Homo sapiens: one gene and its partner. The protein of the gene in region 1 interacts with the protein of each later gene in a pairwise test. Each region holds a gene or a part of one and is shown on either strand. Other genes may lie near its edges. The genes, in order: MGME1 and DCDC2.

What was found.
Region 2: the proteins of MGME1 (region 1) and DCDC2 interact in binary tests that used the Homo sapiens proteins (3 or more experiments, as listed by UniProt).

What each region holds. Positions count from the first base shown.
Region 1 is NC_000020.11:17,964,112-17,975,355, forward strand, and holds the start of MGME1 (mitochondrial genome maintenance exonuclease 1 isoform 2 precursor), read left to right. Parts: upstream 1-4,906; 5' UTR 4,907-5,030; exon of another isoform or gene 5,031-5,503; intron 5,504-5,689; 5' UTR 5,690-5,748; coding exon 5,749-6,259; intron 6,260-8,595; coding exon of another isoform or gene 8,596-8,640; intron 8,641-11,244. Other genes in the region: SNX5 (sorting nexin-5), read right to left, coding at 4,264-4,314. UniProt on the Homo sapiens protein: Metal-dependent single-stranded DNA (ssDNA) exonuclease involved in mitochondrial genome maintenance. Has preference for 5'-3' exonuclease activity but is also capable of endonuclease activity on linear substrates.
Region 2 is NC_000006.12:24,283,634-24,293,971, forward strand, and holds part of DCDC2 (doublecortin domain-containing protein 2), read right to left. Parts: intron 7,446-10,338; coding exon 7,299-7,445; intron 5,274-7,298; coding exon 5,219-5,273; intron 1-5,218. UniProt on the Homo sapiens protein: Protein that plays a role in the inhibition of canonical Wnt signaling pathway. May be involved in neuronal migration during development of the cerebral neocortex. Involved in the control of ciliogenesis and ciliary length.

The DNA of each region.
Region 1 (11,244 bases):
ATGAAAGATATAGGAAGGGTGAGGGAAGAAGTCCAACATTTTATCACCCACCAGCTACCAAGTATCTAACAGCACAATGTCCTAGCTCTGCGGTGCTCTTGAAAGAAAAAGTGAAAACCCTGACAAGGGAGCCATCTGGATTTGTATTCCTCACCATTTACCATGACTAGAATGCTTAGGAGTGTGCCCTTCAGAAACTGAGCTTTTCAGGCAGAAAATTAGTTTTCTCTCCAGACCATATAGGAATGCCTAAAAAAGTTATGCCAAAATGTAAAAAGAAGAGTCAAGCCAAGGACCCCCATTTTTAAACTTAAGTGTTGGCTGCCCCTCAAACTGCAACTTACTCCTCCTGGGGTACTATGGTTTGCCTTTAGGCAGCATGTGAAGGTGTGAAGATCTCTTTTAGGAGATCTTGTCAGAGTACCTCAATGGCCAATCAGAAAACAGGTATTAAGGGTGAAGAAGCCACTTTTTGGAAAGTTAGATCATGCAGAGAAACTTAATTTACACTTTAATAGCCGTTTCTCACTATTGGGATCATTAAAAGTTAGACTGTTTCCTTAAATACTATTTAACTTCACTACACACTGTTGTGACCACGGGCTATTTAAGACATTCAGGGTACTAACCTATAGATCTGTTCTCACCTAATTTGCTCGAGCATCAAGACCCTGATAATAAAGACAGAAAAATGCTGAAACAGCAGAATTTTAAACCAAGTTCCCCTCTGCAGCACAAGAAACTCAGGTAAGTTTCCAGTGTCCAAAGCCTACACTCACAAACACAAACACGAAGCCCTCCCTTTGCAACCCTCAAGTACCCAGAACCTGCTGAAGAAAACCATCTTTCACCACCTTTTGTTAAGGTTCCTCAGTATTAGTGGAAAAGCTTTATTCTCACAAAGATATCCAACAATGCTAATTTTTACATGGCATGTTATTTCCTTAGGCAAGATTAATAGAAAACCTGAAAAATTCGCAACAAGCACACAAAGACTAGCTTCTGTAACACAACCTGACCCCACCCATATCACACCATTTTAGAAGGAAGTCCGTTTAAACCAGTGATTCTCAAACAGGCAATTTTGACTTCTTATCACCATGGGAGGGGAGGAGGCCGCGTCCTAGCAGAGGCCAAAAACAGTTGCTTCACATCCTACAACCCAGAGGGCACTCCTCAACAAAAGTGATCAGGCTAAAATGTCAACAGTGCTCCCCAGGTTGAGAAACTGAATTTTAAACTCAACCTCTAGTTTAGATGACCACTAGGTCTCACCGAATGAGGAGTTTACAGCTCAGAAACAAATCTAGAAAACTTAACAGCCTTGGCCAAGCACAATGGCTCATGCCTGTAATCCCGGCATGTTGAACTGGATGGTGAAACCCCATCTCTACCAAAAAATACAAAAATTAGGTGGGCATGCTGGTGTGTGCCTGTAGCCCCAGCTACTCAGGAGGCTGAGGTGGGGGTGATCACCTGAGCTCCCCAGGTCGAGGCTGCAGTGAGTTGTGATCGTGACACTGCACTCCCGCCTGGGTGACAGAGCCAGACCCTGTCTCAAAAAAAAAAAAAAAAAAGCCTCTTGGCCATTTCTACCTATGGCCAAAATAATGTGAACAGATAATGACCTTTTAGAGTATTCACAAATGGGGATCTTAAGACACCGAGTACAAGTTACTGAACTAGAACTAAGGCGTGGGAAGCTTGATACGTCATACTTCCTCAACTTAGAAAATAGTTGCAAGGGTAGCATAAAGCTTCAGTCCACAAAGTTTGTAAGTTTGGACTTGCTATGGTATTGGTCAAAGTTCAGGATTGTTCCTATACTAACCAACTGCACTCCATTCTAGCTAATGGAGAACAAAAATACCCCTAGAGGCAGCTTCCACACCAGTTAAACACGAAACCAGAGCAGCAGTACTTAGTCTACAAACACTCCTGAGTAGGTAAGAGGACAGATATCATTCACCAAAGTCCCTGTAACCAAGCAGTAAGTTAAGGCCAAGTTGTTACTGTCAAGGAAGGAGAACCCCCTAGTTAAAAATAGCACTAGGCTGCGAAGGTCGAGTTCAAATACCAGCCTGGCCAACATGGTGAAACCCGGTCTCCACAAAAATACAAAAATTAGCCGGGCATGGCGGTGAGCGACTGTAATCCCAGCTACTTGAGAGGCTGAGGCAGGAGAATCGCTTGAACCCAGAAAGCGGAAGTTGCAGTGAGCTGAGATCGAGCCATTGCGCTCCAGCCTGGACGACAGAGCGAGACTCCGTCTCAAAAAAAAAAAAAAAATCAAAAACCAGTAAATAGAGGACCAGTTAGGAACCAAATTAACCATGCATCTCTTCCCCTGAACTATTTTCTGAGGAAGAAGGCAAACCCCAACACCCTCGGCTAAAGAATGTAACAAAATGCCAGTGTCTGGCTACCAGACACGACTGACACAGTATTCCCTTTCAGTTTTGCTGAATTGGCCAAAATGAGTATTGGGCTAGAATTCAAAATCCTGAAGAATCAAGTATGTCCCCCTACCTTAGTGAGTCTTAATTAACTCCATCCTTAGGGAGAATTCCAAACCAAAGTAAATTATCAGGAGGGCATTTAAACAATTTAAGTAACACACATTTCAGGTAACACACAAAACATTTCAGTTGACTACCGAAATTGTATTATGGCAAAAAGTTGCCCAAGACTTAGTTTCCCATTATTTCATACTTGCCCCAAACTCCCTTTCAGTTAACCATAACACCATCTAGGCCAGACCACAGCAGGTTATCAGCATCAGCAGAGATCAGAAAACAAAAATAAAGCCACGCGTCAGGGTAATTATTTATTTTTATTGTCTCTTTATTCCTGTAATGTAAAAAGGAAAACAATGTCATGTAACTCTCTTCGCTACAGATACGGACAGTTTCTGTAGCCTCTAAAACAGGCAGGAAATGGCCTTCATAACCATTCTCCAATTTTGCTGGAGGATCAGGGTGGTGGAAGTCATTTTAAAAACCAGCTGCAATATACTGTACTACCAGAGAGTGGGGTGAAGCAATTGAGTCCTTTTACCTAGCTGACTCCGAATCAAGACAGCTAAAAGAATGTACCAGAAAGAAAGAAAAAATAAAATGCTACCAAAATCCCAATCCATTATCTACCCTTTATGGAGAAAAGTACCTTTATAATGTTTTACAAAGAATCGTGGTCTCAAGTTTCCACTTTGTTTTAGTAATAAAGAACTTTCAAAAAAAAAACCACTCTAAACAACACCCTCCTGTATAGAAAGCTCTATTTTAATAATTAATGCAATGATACCCTTGTTGGAACAATCCAGCCGCTTTGAAACTCTGGTATTTACTTACTAGATGAACAAGTTTCTCTATGGAGGTGCCTTTAACTTCTCAAGAAATGTGTAAGTTAAGACGGCTCCAAATTACATTTTAAGAGAGCCTTGTATTTTTAGAGGTTCTTTTTCATCGGTCAGAAAAACTTACGTTGACGATTCTGCAAGAAAGGTTGCTCGCAAACCATGCATCGCAAAGCTACCGAGGCAAATTTAAAGAACCAATGAAAAAGAGTGGAGGCTCGTCTGAATCTTTAATTGGCTATGGGAATTTCAATTTATTGCATAAATAATCTTTTAGACCTCAAGATACACGTGACCTAGGGACAGTTTACATCAATGGGCAAGACTTAAAAATAGACACCAAGTTCAGCAAGTATTTGAGCACCTACTAAAAATTACACAACTCCCACAACAACGCATTTTGCGTTTCTAAAGTTGTAAGCAGCATGTTCGGACGCTTGATGCAATTTCCCAAGTTGTTTGGGCCCCCCCCCCAAAAAAGTCTTCTCAGTAAAAGGTGGGGGGAAGGAGGGTATTTTGGGGGCAACAAACCAAACTGGTCTGTCGCATGTTAAGTCAATTTCACGTTCACCTACTGGTCACCACGAAGCCGAGGAAAGTTTTAAAAAGAACATTCCGGGGTCTCCAGAGATCATCTCTCCAAGTCCGCTCGGCACCGGCGCCTGAGCTGGGGCTAAGGTCCCGCGTCTCTGGTTCTGTCCTAATAGAATCCGGGACATCCACAGGGATTCCCCGGGGCAGCCTTCAGTGAAGACCAGGGAGAGGGGCCGCCCGGGTCTCACGGGTGCTTCCCGCGCTGGGGATGGCGGCGAGCAGCCACGGCCTATGGACGCGCAAGGGAAAGAATGCAGCGACCCCGGAGCTCGCAGGGCCGCCCGCCCAGGAGTCTGAGGCTGGGAGGACCTCACCTTGCTGCGGTCCTCCTCCTGCTGCTGCAGCAACTCGGGAACCGCGGCCATGGCGACGCGGGACTCGAGCAGGGGCCGCCTGGCTGTGCGAGGAAAGAAGAAGCTGGGCCGCCGCCGCCGCCGCCTGGGCGCCTCTCGGGGGCGGCCACGGCCCCGCCTCCGCCGGCCTCCCTGCCCGACGGCGGCAGGAGGCCTCCGGACTCCGCCACCATCCCAGCTGCCCCGGGAGCAGGCGAGCAGGGCGCCACGTGCTCCCCCAGAGCAGCCTCCCAGTCCCCGCTGCCGTCCATCTTGGAGCCGGGCAAAGACGCCACGTGGGGCCTACCCTTGCTCCGCTCCACGAGGAGGCCGCCAACCGCAGGGCCGCGACACGGACGGGAAGCAACGGACACTCTCCCAGCAAGACGCGTCTAGAGAAAGACCGCGTTTCGGTGCGGGGGGAATTTATTACTCAGCCCGAGTCCAAGATGGCAGCGAGCGCTGACGTCACCAGATCTCGTGAGAGCAGAAGGGCGCGATTTGGAGGCTCCCGCGCTTCGGAGACGCCGGCCCTTCCGCTCGGAGAGGTACTCCCTGCCTCTAACTGGTGGCGCGTTGGCGGAGGCCGACGAAAGCCTCGGGTGGGGCGTGAGCGCCGCGGGGCATTCTGGACCTGCTTTGCCTTAGGCTGTGCCTAATTCGAAACCAAAGCGCGGGACGGATGAAAGTACGGGTCGCGAGAGGTTGTTCGCGCCTTGAGAGTTAAGCGAAGTGTGGTGGCTTCCAAGGTACCGACACTTGCCGTAGGCTGGGCTTTTATTTAAGTCGTCTTTTCTCTAATCCAGACTCCTGCCACAGGGGCCACCGCCGTCCTGGCCCCGCCAGGGGTCCGCACCCACGGCGGAGCGGGAGGCGACTTTTTGCGGTCACAGTAATGGGACCTCAGCGCCGCCACCAGCTCTGACCGGCGAGCGACGGGACCCTCCAACCCGATTTCCACGTCTGTGCAACGGGTTCATTCTAGACCCACGGTAGAGGGTGTGAGGACCAAATGAGAAGTATCCACACAGAATACTTAGCAGAGAGCCTGGTGTCTAGGAATTAGTCGTCGTCTGTCACCTAGGACTGTGTGGCCGCCATGGGACGGGCTCCATCTTTGTGTTTTTCCGTGTCTCGCACACGCCTCCCTTCCTGGGCGTCACATTCCTGCAGATTAGAAACTGGGACGTCTTGCCTCAAGCTGTCTACTAATTCGCATTTAGTATGTGTCGGTCCTTCGGGTATTGAGTCTTGATTTATTTATAAATTTTTTTTGGAGGCAGGGTCTCGCTCTGTCGACTTTCTTAAGAAAGGGCTCTGTCCAAACATGTCGAAAAAGTTCACAATTTTGATGTGCAATATCATTCTGATGCAGCTTTCGCTTTGATGGTTGTTTTCTCTCCAATAGGAATACAAACATAAAGGCCTTCGACCGTTGCAAATAGACTAAAGTGAAAACAAATCTGAATGAAGATGAAGTTATTTCAGACCATTTGCAGGCAGCTCAGGAGTTCAAAGTTTTCTGTGGAATCAGCTGCCCTTGTGGCTTTCTCTACTTCCTCTTACTCATGTGGCCGGAAGAAAAAAGTGAACCCATATGAAGAAGTGGACCAAGAAAAATACTCTAATTTAGTTCAGTCTGTCTTGTCATCCAGAGGCGTCGCCCAGACCCCGGGATCGGTGGAGGAAGATGCTTTGCTCTGTGGACCCGTGAGCAAGCATAAGCTGCCAAACCAAGGTGAGGACAGACGAGTGCCACAAAACTGGTTTCCTATCTTCAATCCAGAGAGAAGTGATAAACCAAATGCAAGTGATCCTTCAGTTCCTTTGAAAATCCCCTTGCAAAGGAATGTGATACCAAGTGTGACCCGAGTCCTTCAGCAGACCATGACAAAACAACAGGTTTTCTTGTTGGAGAGGTGGAAACAGCGGATGATTCTGGAACTGGGAGAAGATGGCTTTAAAGAATACACTTCAAGTAATTATCTCAATTCTGATTCTATATGTTTGCTATGTTTTCTATAATAGAGAGCAACGGTGTCAAAAGAATGAGGTTTGGTTTTGTTTTTTTAACTTACTAGCAAGGAACTCCCTTCAGATAGTAATTAACATTAAATAGCACTTTATGTGTATTAACTCACTTGATCCTCATGGTAGTCCTGTGGAGTATAGATACTGTTATCCACATTTTACAGATGAAACTAAAATAGATCAAATATTTGACTAAATAATACATAAAATTCACTTGTTTTATAAGCTACCAACAATATTAGAATTGCTTGTTTTCCTTGATTATTGAAAAAAGTCACCTGGTAACAGAATTCTAGTTGTTTGCTAGATAATTCTGTTTAGAATCCAGTAAATACCCACTGTCCTACTTATTAGCGTAAACTGACTCGTAAATTTAAAGACCTTGAAGCAGACCAGAACACATGACCTATATTTAGACCTTGGTAAACATAATCAGAGGTTCTTCATAAGGATCTGAGGATAAATACACTTTAACCTTCAACTTCTAATTTACTAACTTGGACAAGTGAGGAGAATAGCTTCCTTAAATTTAATATTCCATTCAAAAACAAAGACCATTGGCACTGGTGAATTAGCTAGTCCCATAAATTATATAGGGGTCTTTTGTTAAAGGAAAGTTTCACATCAATCATTCCTTTACCCAAGCTTCCCAAAGTGCAGTACATGTACTCTTAGTAGTACACAAACTCTTTCATTTTTGTTTTAAGAATAGTGTACTGACCCTTGCCATAGCCTGGGCTTCTATTTAAGTCGTCTTTTCCCTAATCCAGACTCCTAAAACTATGCGTGTAACACATTAAACATGTCACATGTTCTAAAGAAAAATACTAAGTATATATAGGTGGTATTGGATATGTACCAAATGGTCAAGGCCTTTGCTCCTTATAATATTCCTCAGCTGTGTGGGGCAAGGATTATATATGCAAGAGCTAACTGCCTTCCTAAGATAGTTAATTAGTAGCAACCACCAAACTATTGTCTGCTTTCCAAGCAAGCAACATAAAAATCTTCTAATGGCATCTTACAGTTTTGTATTTGTACCACTAAAATTTAGAATTGATAGTTTTCTCATGAGAAGTTATTTTCCTTAAACCAGGAATGTACAGCTGAAATTACTAATAAGAAATGTATTATTAAAAGGCAGAAACCTGCTGGAACACATGGGACCCCAGGGCCTGTAGCTCTTGGCACAAAGTAAGGAAGTGCACCAGAGAGGAATTTCTGTTTGGAATGTGAATGAGCCCCAATAGCCCAGGCAGAGAGAAGACTGGTTGTTTTTTTTTTCATAGAGTCAGCTTTGTTGATCTAGATTAGCACTCAGCTGTGTTTCTCAGTTAACTCAGTAGCAACCTTAAGAAATGAGCAGAATCGCTTACCCCAGCACCCCGCCCAGACTTGACCGCCGGGACCCAAGTGATTCTCCCATCTCAGCCTGCTGAGTAGCTGGGACCACAGGCGTGCACCACCATGCCTGGCTAATTTTTTTATTTTTTGTAGCGACAAGGGTCTCCCTATGTTGCCCAGGCTAGTCTCCAACTCCTGTCTTCAAGTGGTGCTCCCACCTCGGCCTCCCAGAATACTGAGACTACAGGTGTGACCCACTGTGCCCAGGCAGAATCACTCTTTTTAGAAAATAAGTATTAGTAAGCAGTGGGTTCTGAAATAAATAAAGGGACAATTAGTGTCATGGTGAATAAAAGAAAAAGGGCTCACTAAATTGATTAACGGGTCTGGAGGATACTGGATCCCAAACCCAAGAAGGTGGCACCCAAGAAGAATTACATTTTAAAAATTAAGAAGATTTTTTTAATGAAAAATATTGGATCAGTAATTTCTACCCAGTCTTCTCAAAGGTGAGAGCATAGAAATGTGTCTGGCATTCTTCCAAATACTTGAGCAGTTTCCCAAGCATCAGTTCATCTTTTGAAGACTGGTGGGAATGAGAAAGTCTGACTTATTCTGATTTATATTTTGTGTATAAATACACACAAAGGGATGGGGTTTAGGTTTTAATTTTTTTTTTTTTTTTTTTGCTACGCTGATTTAATCCTGAAGTATTAGCCATCCTGCCAGTTCCATCATGAGAATACTGGAGATGCATGAAGGTTTTTTTTAGTGCACTTCATATACGAGGACTTGAAAACATTTCACTTTCATTACTTTGAGTGAATAAGCAGACTTGATGCTACATGCAGTGAATATTCTTGGATCATTTTTTATTTTTATAAATTGAATCATGTTGAATGTTCTGAGCCTTAGTGTCTAAAGGATCCTGTAATCTAGGTTTTCATGTTTGTGATCATGTGTATATGAAGAACCTAGCCAGGGGTAAGTTTGCAGCGAGAAATGTATGGTCTATTGGCATGGCATTTGCTAAGTTTTTTTCTTCCTGTTTTTAACATGTTTGTCTTCTGCTTCATTAACCTAGTGTGTAGATGAATGCTATACACTTCTTTTTCCTAGGCTTTAATTCCATCAGTCATAAATTTCTTGTAGGTCTTTCACGTGTTAATAATTCCAATTGAGTCAAGTAAATTTGGAGTAGAATAACTTAGTTCCTAAGTTGAATTTCATTTAACTCTCCAAATAATTTTTCAGAAGGGATTCCATTTTTTGCTAATGATAGAATTGACATTTCCAGCTGGGCATAGTGGCTCATGCCTGTAATCCTAGCACTTTGGGAGGCCGAAGCAGGCGGATCACTTGAGGTCAGGAGTTCAAAACCAGCCTGGCCAAAATGGCGAAACCCCATCTCTACTAAAAATACAAAAAAATTAGCCGGGCGCAGCGATCACTTGTAATCCCAGCTACTACGGAGGCTGAGGCAGGAGAATCGCTTGAACCTGGGAGGTGGAGATTGCAGTGAGCCGAGATCATACCACTGCACTCCAGCCTGGAAAAAAAAAGAATTGACATTTCCATCTTTGTAAAAAATAGTTGAAGGCCGAGTGCAGTGGCTCATGCCTGTAATCCCAGCACTCTGGGAGACCAAGGTGGGACGATTGCTTGAGGCCAGGTGTTTAAGACCAGCCTAGGCAACGTAGAGAGATTGCATCTCTACAAAAAAAAAATTTTTTTGAATTAGCCAGGCGTGGTGGCACATGCCTGTAGAGGAAGCTGAGACAGGAGGATTGCTTAAGGCCAGGTGTTCAAGGTTACAGTGAGCAATGATCGAGCCAGTACACTCCATCCTGGGTGACAAGTAAGACCCTGTCTCAAAAAAAAAAAAACTTGACAAATGTAAAGTTGTTTTCCGCCTTTTCTGTGGGTCTCTCTGCAAGCATGTTCCAAGCACGTGTATTTCCTGCTCTGTTTCTCTGAGTATCTAATTGGTGATTTCCAAGATTGCTTCCTTTGCTCTACTGTGTGGTAGATTGGAAACAGATTCTGGTGCCAGGCTGCCTGTCCAGCTTTTTGCTTTGGGGCAAATTAACAGCACTGCCTGGTGGGATAGGGCCTCATTCATTAAAATGGGGGTAACTTACAATCCCTATTTTGCTGGGTTGTTGGGTTTGAAAATTAAATAATGTTTTGAAAGCTCCAAGGCCATTGCTTAGCATAACAGTCCCCCCTCTTTCTCTCCTCTTACTAAGAAACAAGTGAATATATTTCTTGTGTTTGTTGAGTCTCTTTGTGTGTTTTTTTTTTTTTTTTTTTTTTTGAGATTGTCTTGCTCTGTCACCCAGGCTGGAGTGCAGTGGCATGATCTTGGCTCACTGCAACCTCTGCCTCCTGGGTTCAAGCAATTCTCCTGCCTCAGCCTCCAGAGTAGCTGGAATTACAGGCATGCGCCACCACACCTGGCTAATTTTTGTATTTTGAGTAGAGACTGGGTTTTACCATGTTGGCCAGGCTGGTCTTGAACTCCTGACCTCAGGTAATCCGCCTGCCTTGGCTGCCCAAAGTGCTGGGATTATAGGCATAAGCCACCATGCCCGGCCATGTTCCCTTTTTTAAAATGTGTATGAGGAGGGGGCTTACTATGCAAGCGCTTGGAGGCCAACGAGCACTGAAAATGAGGAGAGAGTTCAAAAATCAAGTTAGATCCTGGGATACGCCAACAAATCCAGACACTACAGTTCTTTCGGAGAAACCTGGGGACGAAAAGTAAGGCTTTGACCTCAGAAAATGAACATACAGGAAAAATAATGTGTCCTAATGTGTCCTAATGAAATTTCTCTAGTATTCACATGTTATAAAATGTTAGGAAGAAAGAAGATGTGTCCTCCTACAAGCCATAAATCAGAATTCTAATAATCTAAAGCTAATTAGAAAAATATTACATGTTAAATATTAAATATTAGAATAGAAAAATGTATGAGGGAAAAAAATTGAGACACAGCTGAATTTTTCAGGCTGTTCCAGCACTAAAAAAAAAATACAGGAGAAGAATGTCACATATTTTCCTCTTCCTCCCCCTCCAGATTCCATAATATCAAATTCATAACTTTTCATTTGCGCATGCCTTATTTTCCATTCCTTGTTTGTCACTAATCCTGTTAGTAAAAGGATTCCCCCACCTATGTTCATAATTAAGTTTTGGTCTAAAAAGAACTACAAACAGAAGCACAGTTCCCTAGATTTCTAATTTTTTTTTATTTTATCACAGCCAGTTAACTTATTACATTGGATACTTAAACACATAGTACCATAAACTGGATGTGGTCTTGTAGCCGCCAGATCTTCAGTTTTGACTTTGGCCCAATTCTCCTAGAAGTACTTAATTTTAATTCATTTTATTACCTAACGTCCTATTAATAATCCCGTTGGTTTCAAAGTATATTCTTAGGTTTCACAAGAGGCTGAAATTTGGTCTTAGGGGTTGTCACTTAAAAATAACTAATGTAATTTTTGGCCGGGCACGGTGGCTCATGCCTGTAGTCTCAGCACTTTGGGAGGCCAAGGCTGGCAGATCACGAGGTCAGGAGTTCG
Region 2 (10,338 bases), on another chromosome or scaffold:
CCACACAGTCCCCTTCACTCACACCCCTCCTCGCAGTGCCAGGCAGCTAATGATCTATAAAATGCATGCATTCTCCTGGGAACCAATTCATTAAAGGAAAGGAGTAAATTAATCCTGTTAAAAATCGAGCTTGTGACTTTGGATTTACTGGCATAGGAAGTTCTGTGTGGCTCAATGCCAAACATTCACACACTGCCTAAGCCGAGTTTGTGAGAACCTACCAGGCACTGGGCACTGTGCCAGGGGTTATTCTCCTCTACTCAAACGTGACCTCCTGAAAGAGGCCTTTCCAACCACCCAGCTGAAATAGCACCCTCTCTCACTTCCTCTTCCCATGTCTTCATGTATTTTTATTCATGTTTATCCCTGGTGTATATCACACGTATTGTGCATTTGTTTCTGGAATGTAACCTCCGTGCATTTAGTACTTCAGAATCTCTGGGCCCTGAAGCACCAGAACAGTCCCAGGACATCATATGAACTCAATAAATAGTTGTTGGATCAGCGAATCAGTCAATGACAATATACTCAAAGAAGAGTTATAATAGATGTCCGCCCCCACTGCGGCCACCTAGCGGACTCACCTATATCACATACCTGTACGTGTCCCACTGCCTCCTGCTTCTATTCTTGCCCCAAACCATTTCTCTAGAGATACCACAGCCAGAATGAGCACTTAAAAATGTAAAGCAGGCCAGGCGTGGTGGCTCACGCCTCTCATCCCAACACTTTGAGAGGCCGAGGCAGGTGGATCATGAGGTCAGGAGTTCAAGACCAGCCTTGCCAAGATGGTGAAACCCCGTCTCTACTAAAAAAAAAAATACAAAAATTAGCCAGGCATGGTGGCGGGCGCCTGTAATCCCAGCTACTCGGGAGGCTGAGGCAGGGAATTGCTTGAACCCGTGGGGCAGAGGTTGCAGTGAGCCGAGATCATGCCACTGCACTCCAGCCTGGGCAACAGAGTGAGACTCTGTCTCAAAAAAAAAAAAAAAAAAATTTTTTTTGAAGCAAATTATATCACTCCCTCCCTATAACCCTCAAATGGCACCCCATCAAGAAATAAAATCCAAACTCTTTGCATGCCTATATGATTGAGCCCTGCCTGCCTCTCCGATTTCATTCACGGCCTTCTTTCTGCCCTCCTCACATGCCAGGCTCTTTAGCAAGGGCCTGTGTGACTTTGTTTCCTCTGCCTTGGATGCTCTTCTTCCCCGGCCTCATCCCTGGCACAATTGGCTGTGTTAGATATCATTAAGGTCTCAGTTTCAGACAATTTTATATAAATCAATGCCCTGCTACATTTTATTTTCCCCATAGCATTTATCACCATTTGAAACTATTTGTACATTTGTTTACTAGTTGATCGTCTGTCTACTCCCATTCATCCCATCCATACCCTCCCCCCCACACACACATACATGCACACACACACACTAGAATGAAAGCACCATAAATCTAAGTCCTCATCTATCTACCACTATACGCTCAGTGCCTACAGTTCCTGGCACTTAGTAGGAGCTCAGTGAGTATGTTTGGAATGGATGACGGATGGAGTGGATGAATACAGGGTGCTACGGGAACACTGTGGAAAGAGGGACAAACTCTGCTATCATTTTATTTTTCTAAGTCATAGCATGGAACTACGTTTGACAACTTTGCTTTCTATGGGATGCAAATATACCTTATAACTGAGTCTTTGCTTAACGTCACTTCCTCCATGAGGCCTCCCCTGACACACCTATCTAAATGTGTTTTTCTTTTATTGTCTTTCATATTACTGTGCACTTTTCTTTCATTTTTATACTTCATAAGTATCCATTGATTAATGGAATCGCTTGTTTCACTTTTGTCTACTCAAGTAGACCACGAGTATCAGAGAGAGCATCAGATCTTTGCGCTCATTGCTGTATCCCTGGGGCTTACTACTGTGCCATACACCTGGAAAATTCAATCATCAGATGAATTGATGTGATGACATTGATGTATCACAGTATTCACAGCACAGTCTAAAAAACTTACAAATGAGCAAGAAATAAAAATTGCATGTGTGTACCTACACATGCATTTTAAAGCAGGAAATGCTCTACACATTTTTAATTAAAATTTTAGTTTTTCAAATTTCAGAATACTAAACATATCATTCCAAAGTTCAGTCACTGTGAATACAAAGAGTTGGGTCATGACTTTGGTCCTGACATCGACTTTCCCTGTGACTTGGGATCAATTTATTGATCAATTTATTCAATTACAATCGGTCTCTGTAATCATTCCTCTAGCTGCACTGTGAGAATTAATAAGCTAATATCTATACAGTACACAGAAGGGATTCTGCTACAAAGTCCTAAAGAAAAACAAAAAAAGCAAAATACAATTTCCAATCCCTAAATTCATGAGTTTTATTTAGCTTTATAGTTGCTCTGATATTGTTTTCACCTCCTGAAATATTCTTCTCACTCCTCTTTGACCCCGCACCTGTGAAGTTAGGTTGCCTCAAGCCTGGGCCCTCTGTAATTCTCACCGCACCATCTTCCTCTAGGAGCCCCTCATCCATTCTCTCACTTGGCAGCACCAGTGAGACCTGCTCTGTTCAAGCTGTGCTGGGTGATGAAGTACCACAGTGATGCTACGTCTGCTGTTCAACTAGGACCATTACATGGTTGTTCAAATCTACAACTCAGGCCAGGTGCGGTGGCTCACACATGTAATCCTAACACTTTGCGAGGCCAAGGCAGGCCGATCGCTGGAGCCCAGGACTTTGAGAACAGCCTGGGCAACAAGGTGAAACTCTGTCTCCACAAAAAACACAAAAATTAGCCAGGCATGGTGGCACATGCCTGGAGTCCCAGCTACTCAGGAGACTGAGGTGAGAGGATCGCTTGAGCCTGGGAGGTCAAGGCTACAGTAAACCATGATCATGCCACTGTACACCACCCTGGGTGACAGAGTGAGACCCTGTCTCAAAAAAAAAAAAAAAACCACCTGCAACTGCAGCTTCAGTCCTGATGTCCTTGGCAGGCCTCAGCTCTGCCATTTACAACTGCTTGCAGCACACTTTCAACTAAGTTTCCTGATGATACTTCCAACTCAACATGTTTGAAATTACGTAGGTCATTCTTTGCCCTGGCTGCCTTCTTCTTGGCCATAGAACTACCATTTTCTCAAATTCCAAGCTTAAAAACCTCAGTTATCTTTGGCCCCAATTTCTCCATTAACCCCTTGTATCCAATCATCACACAAATCCTTTGTTCCTTGGTTTCTTCCAGAATAATCATCACTTCCTGCTGCCTCTACCACCTCCCCAGTCTAGGCTCCTTTCCCCTCATACCAAGATAGTTGCAACTGCCTTACAACCATCGACTTATCTATGGCTTCTCACCACGTGAAGTCTTCCTCCATGTAAAAGATCTGATGCTCCCAAAATGGACTCAGATTAATATTCTCACCTCTCAGAAGCCCTTGTGGGCTGCCCTCTATTCAAGGACAAACACTAGACTCTTCATTCTGCTATTCAAGGTCATGTAATAACTGTCACCACCTACCATGTCAGGCACATCAGCCCCCACACCAAAAAGGACCATCTGTTCCAGTCAGCCTAAGGGACTCATTGTCCCGGGGCTCGGGAGCAGGAGCTCTGAGCTGGCTGTGTGGATGCAATTCCTCCCCTCCTCCCCTGCCATTTGCTCAGTAGGAGCCTTTGTTTGTATTGTATTGTATTTTATGTTATTTTGTTTCATTTTTTTGAGACAGGGTCTCACTCTGTTGCCCAGGCTGAAGTGCAGTGGGGCAATCTCTGCTCACTGCAACCTCTGCCTTCAATGGGAGCCTTTGAACCTGTCACTTCTACTCTGTGTACTTCCTTTTTTCATTCCTTTTTAAATGTAGATGACAAAGATGCCTGCCTTGTGGGGTGAGGTTAAATAAATCACTACTGTAAAGAGCTTGGCATAGTGTTGAGCCCACAAGGGCCCGGTAAATGTCAGCCAGCGTGACTGCTTCTTCGCATGCCCACGTCTGCCCCAACCATCTCACCCTCCCTTGGATCTGAAGGTCCTCTCCCCTCATCTACCTTTTTCTGAATTTTAAACAGTTTCAAAGGCAGAGCTCAAATTCAACTTCCTCTGTGGACTGCTGCCATTGTACATTCAGTCCTTCCCTCCCTCTCATGGTCACCAATCTCTAGATATTTGATGTTTAGCATTAGCTTGTTTGTTGCCTTTTTAAGCTATCTTCTTTATTTCAAGTAGATTGTAAGTTGCTTGAGGGCAAGAGCTCTATTGATTTTTATTTTATTTTTGTCATAATAGTATAAGAGTCTCAGCTAATGAGTTCTTAATATCTGTTATGCTGAGTTCGGCACTACTTATGTACACAAAATTATTTGTCTTTCTTTCAAGAATTTCACATGATATAACCAAAAAAAAGGAGGGATCTAAATCATTAGGAGACAATATCATTGCCTAGAAATCATTTACTTTACAAAATACCAAAATAAGAATGTTGCTTAATTAATTCAGGGTGTGGGTGGAAGATGTCAAATCAGTTCTGATCACAACTTGTCGGGCAATTCAACCAAAAGGGAAGAAAGAGAAGCCTCAGCCAGGAAGAACTGCCAAGGCAACGCTCTGGCATGACATGGAGCTCACCCCATCAGGGAGCGCAGACTGAAAACACAAGAAGGTTAGGAAATTACCTACTAAATGCTGTCGTTACTCCCACAGAGTAGGTATTTAATAAATGTTTGCTGAATTAACAAACCATGAATAAATGATAAATGGAAAAGATTCAGATGGCAAACTAAATACCTAGAACAATTCTCAATCTTTTCAAGGAATATTAATGAGGATTATACCCCTTTTCTCAGCGAAACTTCCCTTTTAGTCTTCGTTAAAGATAGAAACCAAGACTGGATGATCATTGATGTGACCTACTACAATGGTTCTTACAGTTTAAAGTATTATTGCCAAGATTTTAAGTGCAATATAAATTATGTCAGGTGTATATACAAGGAAAAAATTTTAAAATACATATTCTAAAAAATGTTAGCTCTGTTTAGGACCATAAGTGTAACATTAAAGTTCTAGTGCTGTTTCACATAATTGGTTATACACCACGAAGCGGCTAAGTTTTATCTCTTGGAACTTAATTGAAGCCCAAAGGACAGTCTCTTTGTATCATATAAAAATATAGAACATCAACGAGGAAAGCATCTGATACTTACACTCCCTTTAGACTTTCTGGATCCTACAATAGGAGGTAGTGAAGAAGCTTTCTGACTGTGGAAACAAATTGCAATTTAGAAATCTGAATGTTGTTTACAAATAATGTACAATGCAAGATAATTATCATCCCCACCTGGAAGTCAACTGTTTACTGCTGTGTTTCACAAAAGGTAGATAACATACACTTTAACACATACTTTCCCAATTTCACAAAGATCATAACATTTCCAAATTCCATCCCAAAAGATTTGTAATGTTTTCCTGTATAATATTTTAATCAATGCTTACAAGTAAACTTTTAGTATCACCTGAAATTTGTATAGCATTTTTATCCAGATCCCAAAGTGTCCTATTTGCATTTCAAAAAATCATTTCCAAATGTGAATAATGATTTTTCCAGACTGAGTTAAAAACAAATTTCCTTCGTTTCTATGATGTCTTCTATGTCTACCTCTGATAGGAGAGCAGAGGTAAAACACTGGCATTTGCATTCAGGTAGTTTTTAAACAAGTCGTCCTCACCAAAAAGTTAAAAATTATTTTAGGCTGTAAGAATAAGTTGTTTTGTTGATATCTGTATTATTAGGAAAAGACCCATCTTGAAACCCAACTGAATCTCTCCAAAAATAGAAGGACACATATATAAAAAAAATTCTTATTAATTGTATGAGAAAGGCCAACGTGAGTTACAGTTTTCTTATTACCATCAGGTACACACTGTTGATCACAGCAGGTTAACCTAGGGCTGCTTAGCAAAGATGGCTAAAGATTTGATTTCATGGATGGGTAAGGTTGGTTAGCGATAAGTCAGCTGGTAAATAATTCAAAGGTGCTAGAAAACCATGTGCTCTTGCATAGTTCAAACACCACCCCTGAAATTCCACTTCATCTATTACTTATTTAGAAGCTCTTGGCCAGCCTCTCCATCAAGTTACACAAATTGTGAATTAATTGCAAACACACTGGTGATATTCTGCTCTACTTCTGCGGACGACAACCAAAAAAAATTTTTTTTTGCAATGGCAAGGTGGCCACAGAATCTCTGGGAAAAGCAACAGAGATGGATCCCTGGGCACCATGAGCAAGCCGAGAGATCCTGCAGCATGGGCCAGAGCTCTTCTTTTTTTTTTTTTTTTTTTTTTTTTTTTTTTTTTTTTTTTGAGACGGAGTCTCGCTCTGTCGCCCAGGCTGGAGTGCAGTGGCGGGATCTCAGCTCACTGCAAGCTCCGCCTCCCGGGTTCACGCCATTCTCCTGCCTCAGCCTCCCAAGTAGCTGGGACTACAGGCGCCCGCCACTACGCCCGGCTAATTTTTTGTATTTTTAGTAGAGACGGGGTTTCACCGTTTTAGCCGGGATGGTCTCGATCTCCTGACCTCGTGATCCGCCCGCCTCGGCCTCCCAGAGTGCTGGGATTACAGGCGTGAGCCACCGCGCCCGGCCCAGAGCTCTTCTTGAGTGACTCCGCAGTGTATCTCCTAGGCTGAAATAAAGCATCTTTCACAAATATATGACATTTCATGGAGAAAAACTGTTTACGGTATATTGTAATTAAAAATATAATCCTTAAAATTTTACATGAATTAACTGTACACCCATCCTCTCTATTTGCATAAGTGGGATTATGTTGTTTTTATATTTTACAGTTATTATTAAAACAAGTATAAAATATTATGAGTTTTTTAACACTCTTGGATGTTTCTATCCAAACCAACTGAAAAGTTATTTGGTCTAGCAACTATTAAGACACAAAAACTTCTAATAATGTTTGCTGTAGAGAAGCTCATTGCCCTGTATCTTCTTCACAATAATAAATTTTTGCATTTACTTATAAATTTCATGCATGCTAAAAAAAAACCATGTAGTCTTTCATAACTTCCCAGAAATTATATTTTTGTTCAATAGCTTTCAGTCTCCCATCATGGCAATAAAAACAAAGATCAATGTATACCATATATGCTTTCCATTCTAAGTAATAAATAAGATTATCAATTACATAAAATATAATGGTGGTCAGCAAAAGACCCAATGCTATTTCAAGTGGTAACTAAAGCATGAGGAGTGGTAAGGAGTAAGACTTACCCAAAAGGCCTTCTCATCGTTGACTTGTCAAAAAGTAACTCACTGTAAGGCAGTTTCTTAAACTTATCTCTGCCAACAGCCACATAAAACTGCCCATTCTCCAACTCTGCTCCACTCTCAACAAGTTTTCCTTCTAAAGTATAAAGCCTGTCGAAAATATGAACACCAACAATTAGAATTTTAACCAACATTTAAAGAATTGCTTAAGATTACAAAGTATTCTGGATGTCAAAAAAATTAAAATTACATAGTAAATAAAAACATTCTGTACTTAATTTAGCTCATTTGTTACTATCCTCATTATTGCATTATAGATGCCTCAAAGTTATCAGATTCCACTAAATACTAATGTTATAATGCAGATACAATGACTATCTTGCTGTACAGGGTTTCACCCCAGTGAGTCTGATGATCTGGCATAAGGATCCCTATTGCTGCCATATTAAAATTTTAGAGGAGAAAAATTAACTTGTACAGATCACAGTGCTTTAAATAAAGCTCTGTTTCCATTGAACATTGATTCTTCTATTTATATTTTGTTAATACTTTTTTTTTTTTTTTTTTTTTTTTTTGAGACGGAGTCTCGCTCTGTCGCCCAGGCTGGAGTGCAGTGGCAGGATCTCGGCTCACTGCAAGCTCCGCCTCCCGGGTTCATGCCATTCTCCTGCCTCAGCCTCCCAAGTAGCTGGGACTACAGGCGCCCGCCACTACGCCCGGCTAATTTTTTGTATTTTTAGTAGAGACCGGGTTTCACCGTTTTAGCCGGGATGGTCTCGATCTCCTGACCTCGTGATCCGCCCGCCTCGGCCTCCCAAAGTGCTGGGATTACAGGCATGAGCCACCGCGCCCGGCCTTGTTAATACTTTTAAATTTTATTTTCTTAGCATATTCATCAGGCTGGCAAGCTTCTGACCACATTCTGTGTAAGAACAGCCCTCAACCAAAATATTACATACAAACACACAGAGAACCGGGTCAGGAACAATGGGGTGAGAGGGCAGGAGGTAAAAGAACCCATTGCCAGTGTTAATGATGCAGAACTGCATAGCATTTGTGCTTCTTTCTTTTTTTTTGCCGTCCCTACTAAGCAAAACAAGAGTGAACATTATATCTTCCCAGAATCGAGCAGTTTCACAGTAACCTTCCTTTACTGTAAAACTGCTGCTACGAGCTACAATTAATATGTTACTTATTAAAAGAACAGTCATAATTTTACCAGATGATTTTAAATGTCCACAAAAATTTTTTTAAAGAACAGGAAAATAAGTATTAGAAAACTAAACCAGAAAGACAGTGCATATTTTTTAAGGTTATAAGCAAGAGCTATTAATAAATGGAAGGATTTCAGTATCATCAAAAAGCTTTCTGTCTTCCTATATTACATAATAAGATTAAATGTCATTTACAGACGCAAAAAAAAAAACCCATTGACCTGTCAGCTTGTTTCCTGATGACATAAATGGCCATATCATACAGAACCATGAAATACAATGAAAATAGCCACCAATAGCCACCAACATTCCTGAAATGTATTTGTGTTTTTAGTTAGTATACAGATGGTAAAGTCTCTTTCTTTATAACATTGTACCTCTACTCCTAACAAGTCTAAATATCAACACTTAACCCAGAATTCTATGTTTTTTGCCTTAACTTAAGCTGGACATGGTGGCCTATGCCTATAGTTCCAGCTACTTGGAAGGCTAAGGCAAGAGGATCGCTTGAGCCCAGGAGTTCAAGACCAGCCTGGGCAACATAGTAAGACGCTATCTCAAAAAACACTTGACCAGGGTTTCTGAATACTGGCATTATTGACATTTTGGACCAGATAATTCTTTGCTGGAAAGGTGAGTAGGCTGCCCTGTACATTGTAAGATGTTTATTAGCAGCACCTTTGGCCTCCACCCACTAAACAGTAGCAGTAGCCACCCCATCCCCAGTTGGGACTACCAAAAATGGTTTCAGGCACTGCCAAATGTCCCCAAGGGGCAAAATCATACCTGCTTGAGAGCCAATGGCCTATATCCAAGCACTATTTTTCTACTTTTCTTCAAAATAGTTATATCTCAATCAGTAGTAATTTCATAGCTAGAAATTAAAAACCAGCATAGCTGTGGACTCTGGAAACAGCCAAGATTTGACTTGTTTCCTCTGCAGGTAAGTAAAACGCAGTGAATAAATTCTTTTTGTTAATAGAGACAAGGTTTTGCTATGTTGCCCAGGTTGGTCTCGAACTCCTGGGCTCAAGTGATCCTCCCAAGGTGCTGGGATTACAGACGTGAGCCACCACACCTGGCCCAGCACTGAATAAATTCTAATTCATGATTTTAGCCTTCTTTTATATAACTGTTGTTGCTCTACTTTCTTCTTTTGCTACAAACACAAGAAACATAAAAAGCAAGTTCAGTAAATTTTTATGGGATGCTTTTTATATATGAATATACTGATGCATAGGGAGGGGCCAACCATAAGATTTATTAACGTTAAAGGAAAACGGTCATATCCCAAGAGAGCAGCAACCAAATCTCTCATATCTGCCATTACATTAAGAATTTCACCTATCCTAAATATATACGCACCCAACACAGGAGCACCCAGATTCATAAAGCAAGTTCTTAGAAATCCACAAAGAGACTTAGACTCCCACATAATAGTGGGAAACTTCAACACTCCACTGACAGTATTAGATAGATCATAAAAGCAGAAAATTAGCAAAGATATTCAGGACCTGAACTCAACCTTGGACAAAATGGATGTGATAAACCTCTATGGAACTCTCTATCCCAAAACAGAATATACATTTTTCTTATTGCCACATGGCACATACCCTAAAATTAACCACAAAACCAAACATAAAACAATCCTCAGAAAATGTAAAAGAATCAAAATCATACCAAACACACCCTCAGATCGCAGCACAATAAAAATAGAAACCAAGACTTTAAAAATTGCTCAAAACCATGCAATTACATGGAAATTAAAAAACTTGCTCCTGAGTGACTTTGGGGTAAATAATAAAATTAAGGCAGAAATCAAGAAGTTC